Homo sapiens: one gene and its partner. The protein of the gene in region 2 purifies or fractionates together with the protein of the main gene of each other region. This does not show direct contact. Each region holds a gene or a part of one and is shown on either strand. Other genes may lie near its edges.

The links. The genes of interacting proteins can lie anywhere in the genome.
Region 1: the proteins of CCDC81 (region 2) and CD37 purify together in Homo sapiens (co-immunoprecipitation; one study listed by IntAct). This does not show direct contact.

What each region holds. Positions count from the first base shown.
Region 1 is NC_000019.10:49,334,079-49,338,205, forward strand, and holds the start of CD37 (leukocyte antigen CD37), read left to right. Parts: upstream 1-1,327; 5' UTR 1,328-1,462; coding exon 1,463-1,531; intron 1,532-1,635; coding exon 1,636-1,708; intron 1,709-2,830; coding exon 2,831-2,955; intron 2,956-3,068; coding exon 3,069-3,143; intron 3,144-3,846; coding exon 3,847-3,951; intron 3,952-4,127. UniProt on the Homo sapiens protein: Structural component of specialized membrane microdomains known as tetraspanin-enriched microdomains (TERMs), which act as platforms for receptor clustering and signaling.
Region 2 is NC_000011.10:86,409,387-86,412,886, reverse strand, and holds part of CCDC81 (coiled-coil domain-containing protein 81), read right to left. Parts: intron 501-3,500; coding exon 328-500; intron 1-327.

The DNA of each region.
Region 1 (4,127 bases), on a different chromosome or scaffold from region 2:
TTCACTTCCCCAGGTACCCAGCCCCTGCCCCCAGCACCTGGGTGCTCCCTGGTCCAGAACAGGCTGCAGACTCTGAGAGGCACAAAAACAAGTGGGGAAGGGGGAGACAGAGAAAAGAAGACAGGCTGGGCACAGTGGCTCACGCCCATAATCCCAGCACTTTAGGAGGCCAAGGCAGGAGGATCACTTGAGCCCAGAAATTTGAGACCAGCCTAGGCAACACAGTGAGACTCCCATCTCTACAAAAAATGAAGAAAATTAGCCAGGCATGGTGGTGTGCACCTGTAGTCCCAGCTACTTGGGAGGCTGAGGTGCAAGGATTGCTCGAGCCTGGGAAGGTTGGGGCTGCAGTGAGCTATGATCGCACTACTGCATTCCAGCCTGGGCGACCCTGTCTCAAAAACAAAAACAAAAGAGAGATGAAGAGAGAAAGGAGGAAGGACCCAAAGAAGGGGCCAGAAGCAGAGAGAGGCCAGGCACAGTGGCTCACGCCTGTAATCCCAACACTTTGGGAGGCCAAGGCAGGAGGGTCGCTTGAGTCCAGGAGTTCCAGACCAGCCTGGGCAACCTAGTGAGACCCTATCTCTGTTTTTTTTTAATTAAATATAAAAAATACAACACTCCCACTCCATAGCAAGACCCCATTTCTACAAAAAATACAAAAATTAGCCAGGCATGGTAGTGTGCACCTGTAATCCCAGCTACTCAGAAGGCAGAGGTGGGAGGATAGCTTGAGCCCAGGCTACAGTGAGCTGTTTTCCCCACCGTACTCCAGCCTGGGTGAAAAGTGAGACCCTGTCTCAAAAAGAAACAAATATATAAATAAAATAAAGAAACACAGAGAGAGGGAGGATAGAGACCCCAGGAGGCAGGAGGACAGAGACCCAGAGGAGGGAGAGACTCTGCTGAGATAAGGGGACAGAGATGGGGAGTAGCAGGAAGGTGGGGACAAAGACCCAGAGAGGAGGAACAAGAGACCCAGGGCAGGAAATGGGAGACACAGCTGGATGCAGAGATGGGAGAGCTTAGCAGGCCATGAGGTCAGAGTGTCTGTGAGGTCAGCTGCTGTCCAGGGTCAGCCCTGAGGTCCCCATGCCCAGAGGTGGGTTCCAGTAGATCAGGGGTCCCTTTAGATCCCCCAGCGCCTGAGACATGGAGACCTGGGAGGGACTGCCCCATGAGTCCTTGGTGCCCACAAATTCCAAGGCCCCTCAGGTACCAGAGCATGTGTCCCAGTGGAGCAGGTGAGGGAGACAGGGACAGAGAGAGAGACAGAAAGCCACCTTACATGAAGCGGGAGTGGGTGGAGCCCCACCCCTGGAACTTCCTCTTTTGGGGTTCTTCCTTTCTCTCTCAGCTCTCCGTCTCTCTTTCTCTCTCAGCCTCTTTCTTTCTCCCTGTCTCCCCCACTGTCAGCACCTCTTCTGTGTGGTGAGTGGACCGCTTACCCCACTAGGTGAAGATGTCAGCCCAGGAGAGCTGCCTCAGCCTCATCAAGTACTTCCTCTTCGTTTTCAACCTCTTCTTCTTCGTGAGTTGCCTCATGGCTACCCAGCCGGGGCCCAGCCCCTGCCGCTAACCCAGCCCTCATCTTCCCCTGTGGCCCACCCCCGTATCCGCATCTCCTCTCCCCAGGTCCTCGGCAGCCTGATCTTCTGCTTCGGCATCTGGATCCTCATTGACAAGACCAGCTTCGTGTCCTTTGTGGGTGAGGGGGGCTGGGGCAGGTGGGAGGGCCTCCCCCAACCCAAGCAACTTCCTGGGGTCTCCCTTGTCTCAGGGAGACCTACGGTGCCCTACTCTGCAGGCAGGCTACAGGCTCCCATCCACTGCTCACCGGAGGCTTCTTGGAGCCTGAGTCTTCTTCCGGCAAATGGGGTTGTGCATACAAACAACAATGATCATGAGAGCCATTTCTCAAGCACTTCCTATCTGTCGGGACTTGTGGCTGGTCAGATGCCCCCACAAACCTTCCCCTCGCTTGAGGTTCAGAGAGGGGAAGCCCCTTGATGGATGTCATACAGCAAGGACGTAAAAGAGCCAAAATAACATTAATAATAGGAAAATAATAATGAAGTATGACCCTAAATAATAATGAAATATAACCCTAAACGCTCATATTTAAGAAGTCTTTGCCCTGTGTTGAGGACTGGGTTGAACACATGTCCTCATGTGTCTCTCAAAATGACCCTAGGGGCCGGGCGCGGTGGCTCACACCTGTAATTCCAGCACTTTGGGAAGCCGAGGCAGGTGGATCACTTGAGGTCAGGAGTTCGAGAATAGCCTGGCCAACATGGTGAAACCCTGTCTCTACTCAAAAATACAAAACGTTAGCCAGGCATGGTGGCACATGCCTGTAGTCGCAGCTACTAGGGAGGCTGAGGCAGGAGAATCACTTGAACCTGGGAGGCAGAGGTTGCAGTGAGCCGAGATCACATCACTGCACTCCAGCCTGGGGGACAGAGCGAGGCTCCAACTCAAAAAAAAACCCTAAGAAATAGATATCATCTCCTATGCCTCAGGGAGGTTTAAGGAGCCAAGCCAATGTCACAGAACAAGTGATAGGGCTGAAACTACTGGGGACGAGGAGGAGCTGAAGGAGGAAGGAGAGGGTAAGAGGAAGAGAGACAGAGATCCAGGGACGGGAAACAGGCCCAGAAAGAAGAGAAAGTTTCAGAAGGAAACAGGGACTCAGGGTGGGGCAGGGACAGAGTCCCAGAGAGAGGGGCACCAAGATACTGCTCCCCACTTGGGTGGCTGCCTAGGTGGGAAATGGGGCTGCCTGGAGCTGTGCCACACAGCTCATCATCACTCCCCTCACCTCTCCCAGGCTTGGCCTTCGTGCCTCTGCAGATCTGGTCCAAAGTCCTGGCCATCTCAGGAATCTTCACCATGGGCATCGCCCTCCTGGGTTGTGTGGGGGCCCTCAAGGAGCTCCGCTGCCTCCTGGGCCTGGTGAGTGCACCATCCCTCTCCGTCCCTAGGAACACTCCTATCCCCACCCTCAAAAATGGCCTGGGCCGGGGTTGCAGGGGTGGTCAGCCTGATCTCTCCACTCTGCTCCCCAGTATTTTGGGATGCTGCTGCTCCTGTTTGCCACACAGATCACCCTGGGAATCCTCATCTCCACTCAGCGGGCCCAGGTGAGCTTCCTGCAGTGGCCACCACCCACCCCCAGCAGGGAGGAGAGGGAAGGGAGTGGTGGGAGAGGGTGGAGAGAGACCGAAACAAGGGCAGACAGGGGCTAACCTAGATAAAGAGAAATAAGAGGCTGGGCCTGGTGGCTCACGCCTGTAATCCCATAATCCCAGCACTTTGGGAGGCTGAGGTGGGAGTCCAGGAGTTTGAGACCAGCCTGGGCAACATAGTGAGACCCCATCTATATTTAAAAAAAAAATCCGGGTGTGATGGTGTGCACCTGGGGTCCCAGCTACTTGGGAGGTCGAGGTGGGAGGATCACTTGAGCCAGGGAGTTTGAGGCTACAGTGAGCCATGCACTCAGCCTGGGTGACAGAGTGAGACCCTGTCTCAAAAAATAAATTAATAGAAAGACACACCGACCTGGACCAAGGGAGACAGGCATAAACAGCTCCAAAGGGAAACACACGGGAAAAAGAGAGAACAAGAGAAAGAAATAGACGCCCTGAAAGAAGAGACAGAGACTTATGAGCCGTAGAAATAGTGGAAGAAACAGAAAGACAGACCTGAAGTACACAGAGCTAGCCATTCAGTAAGGATTTGAGACTGGCCCAGAGATGCACAGGGCCCGCCTGAGGCTGGCACAGCCTGAGAGGGGGAGGGGTGGGGCGGGGAAGATAAGGCCCAGCCTCACTGGTGGCCTCTCAGCTGGAGCGAAGCTTGCGGGACGTCGTAGAGAAAACCATCCAAAAGTACGGCACCAACCCCGAGGAGACCGCGGCCGAGGAGAGCTGGGACTATGTGCAGTTCCAGGTAAGCCCCCCTCCTCCAGTTCCCTCCCGGACTGACCCGCCTCAGCCCTGTGCTTGGAGGAGACTCCACCCCAACGTGGGCCCGACCCCCAGCTCTACGATCCTAACACACCCCAATCCCTCCCAGGCCCGACGCTCCCCACTCCCCAGATGACACAACTGTCCCCGGCGTCGCCT
Region 2 (3,500 bases):
CACATGCCCACTGGGGCTTCAGGAGCTGTAAACATTCACCCCTAGATACTGCCGTGTGGCCAGAGCCCCACAGCCTGCCCATCTGTATGCTCTCCTAGAGGTTTGAGCAGCAGGGCACTGAAGAAGCAAGCCACACCCCCACTGCATGCCCTGCGAGGGGGACGAGGGAACTTTTCCCATTTCAGTACTGGCTGCTAACTGGGTTAGTTTGCTCAGTTGGTTACAGTGTGCTAATGAAACTACCAATGCTGATTCAATCCTACATGAAAAGTAACTTCACATGAAAATTCCAAATCCATTTGTCAGAGCGTGTGTAGCTGGACTCACTCCTCTGTGAGTTGCACTTGTTCCAGGCGGTCCATCAACTCTCTGTATTGTCTTTGCTTTATTTCGTTTTCCTGTCTGTTATCCATTTGTTTCAGGAGACTCCGGGAATATTCCTCTTGCTTAAGAGCATTAAGCGCAGGACTGAGTGGCCGTTTGTCAAATAGGAAGGATTTCTAGAATGAAAGAGAAGCAATTCATTTATGCTAGAGTACTGAAAAACAAGGTTAATAATTCAGAAGACTAAGATAAATCAGAAAGTATTTCTTAATTTATAATATTTGCCCAGCCCTCAACACACGGACCAGCTGGTGTTGAGGTAACACATAGAATCATATGAGTGTGTTCAAGGATGAAGCTGAGCTGAGCTGTGTTACCAAAACACCAGGGGTTTGGTCTAGGTGCTCACAGCACAGAAAGCCAATCACTGAGACAATGATTATTGCCAGGGAAGAAGGATTTAATTGGGTGCTGTAGCCAAGGAGATGAGAGATCAGTCTCAAATCCATCTCCTTGACCAACTAAAAGTAGGGGTTTATATAGCAGGGAAGAATTGAAACTATGTATGGGAAAACCAGAATTCGGGAGGGATAAGGAAGCAATCATGGTCAATGGAGGGGCCTGGCTCATTGTCTGAATGCAATCATCTGGTGAGTTTCAATTCTTTGACACTTTTTGGAAGGCCTAGTGGTTCTTTTCTGAGGAAGAAACTCAGATAAAACAATGTTAAGTTTCAAGCTTTAAGACCAAAAGGGTCAATTTCTATGTTTATTTAAAACAAAAACAAAAACAAAACCTGTCTGTGGGACTATTGGGTCAGTTTCAACTGGAATCCCATTGCTGAGACAGAGATGAAAAAGGACTCCTGGAGTAGGTTGTGAGTTAGCATTTACAACATCCAGATGGAAGGAAGAAGGAATTCTGAGTGCATGCGAAATCATGCAAGGACAGAGAGGAGCTGAAAGGAGGGCAAACTGAATACCTACTGTGGGCCTGGCCATTCTAGACCCTGGTGATCCAACAGTGAGCAACAACAGAGATCTTCGCACTCATCAAGCCTGCATGCTGATGCAGGAGACAGACAATGAGCAAGAAACGGTACATCAGGTCATTTAAGATAGTGCTAAGTGCTAGGAAGCCCTTATGATAGCAAGTGGCTGGGTGGGAAAAGAGCTAAACTGGTTGGTTATTAGGGAAGGTTTTTCCATGGAGAAAATGAATCACCTTCACTGTAAATATCAGGGAGACCCGTGTTCCATACAGAAGGAACATTAAGCGCAAAGACACTAGATGGAAACAAGCTAGGCATGTTCAATGAGCAGAAAAAAAGTCTCTGTGGCTGAGGCATAGTGACCAAGGGAAAGGAGAAGGCATAGTGACCAAGAGGAAGGCAGGAGTCAAAGCGTGTAGAATTTGATAGTTGAAGGTGAGGAGTCTAAATTTCATTTTAACTCAATGGGAGGCCAGTGGAGGTTTTAAATGGGAGAATAGTATGTTTTGGTTAACAATATTATAATATCACTTTGGCTGGTGTGTGGAGAATAAATTATAGGAGAGCAAGAATGCAAGCAGTGAATCTAAGGGAAGTATTGGAGAAGTTGAGCATAACAATGTGGCTTGGCAACACTTTCAGTGTGGCAACATTAAAGATGAAGACATTTGGACAGGTATTGGATACATTTTGGAGGTAAAGGCAACTGGACTTGCAAATGATCGGAAGTCAGGAACAGAGAAAGGAATATTGTGATCATGACTAAATACAGGTTTGTGCAAAAATGGCTGGTTGGTGATGCCACTTACTAACATGAGAAGACAGAAAGGAACAGGTTAAGGAGGGAATCAAAAGTTCTGTTTAGGTCTTTTTAAATTTAAGATGTGTATAGATATATCAAAGAAGAGATACACAGCAGTAATAAATATAATCTGGAGCTTATATATAAAGAGAGAGAAAGATCATGCCTAAATTTCAGAAGCCCCATGCTCGCTCGCTCTCTCCTTCCTTCCCTGTTTCCCTGCCTGGAATGCTCTTCCTCCCTTGATTTCTTTACCTAACTCTTGTATGTCAGAAAGTCTTTCCAGATCTCTGGTCTAGGTTAATGAATCTCTTCTTTTGCTCATATAGTGCCCTTTTTTCAGAGATTTATCATCGCATTTATTATACCACACAGTTGTCTCTTTAAGTGTCTGTCTCTCCCACTAGAGACCTCTTCAGAAGAGGGAACCTTGTATTCCTAGACACCAGCACAGTGGCTGGCCTGGAGGAATTCAATAAATGTTTGATGATGAATAAATAAATTATAATTTATTAGATTTATGTCCGGAGTGTCGACTACCTAGATGGTGATATATAAAGAGGAAGATTCAGGCAGAAATAAAGGTAGGCACATGATGATTGAAAACATTAAAACAAGCAGTGAAGCAGTTGGCTCACCACCATCTGAATCTGAGTTTCTCAAACATTAATGCAAATACAAATCACCTGGGGATGTTATTCCACCATAGATGCCCATTCAGGGAGTCTGGGGTGAGGCCCTAGATTCAGCATTTCCAGCAAGTTCCCAGGCAATGCTGATACTGCTGGTTCTCTTAGGTCCTTGGGCTGGACTTTAGTAGTATACTGCTCCCTCCTCTCCACCCATCCCACGTCCTGGTTGAGAATTACCATAATTAACAAGACCTGCAGTGACTAGTAGGAATGGTACAGTGAATGTGAGTGGTGTGGCTATAGACACTGGACAACACCTGCCCTAGAAGAAAGCTTCAAACTGCACCACCCACTTTTCAACTCCGCTGCTTAAAAAAAATGGCACAACTGGCTGGGCATGGTGGCTCACACTTGTAATCCCAGCACTTTGGGAGGCCAAGACGGGCAGATCATGAGACCAGGAGTTCAAGACCAGCCTGGCCAACATGGCGAAACCCTGTCTCTACTAAAAATACAAAAATAGCGGGGCATGGTGGCGGGTGCCTGTAATCCCAGCTACTCGGGAGGCTGAGGCAGGAGAATGACTTGAACCCGGGAGGCAGAGTTGCAGTGAGCTGAGACCACACCATTGCACTGCAGCCTGGGTGACGGAGCAAGACTCCATCTCAAAAAATAAAAATAAAAAATAAGGCACAACCTGCAACACAGGGAGTGGATCCAAAGGCTCACAGATGGGCCAGGTGTTAGCAAC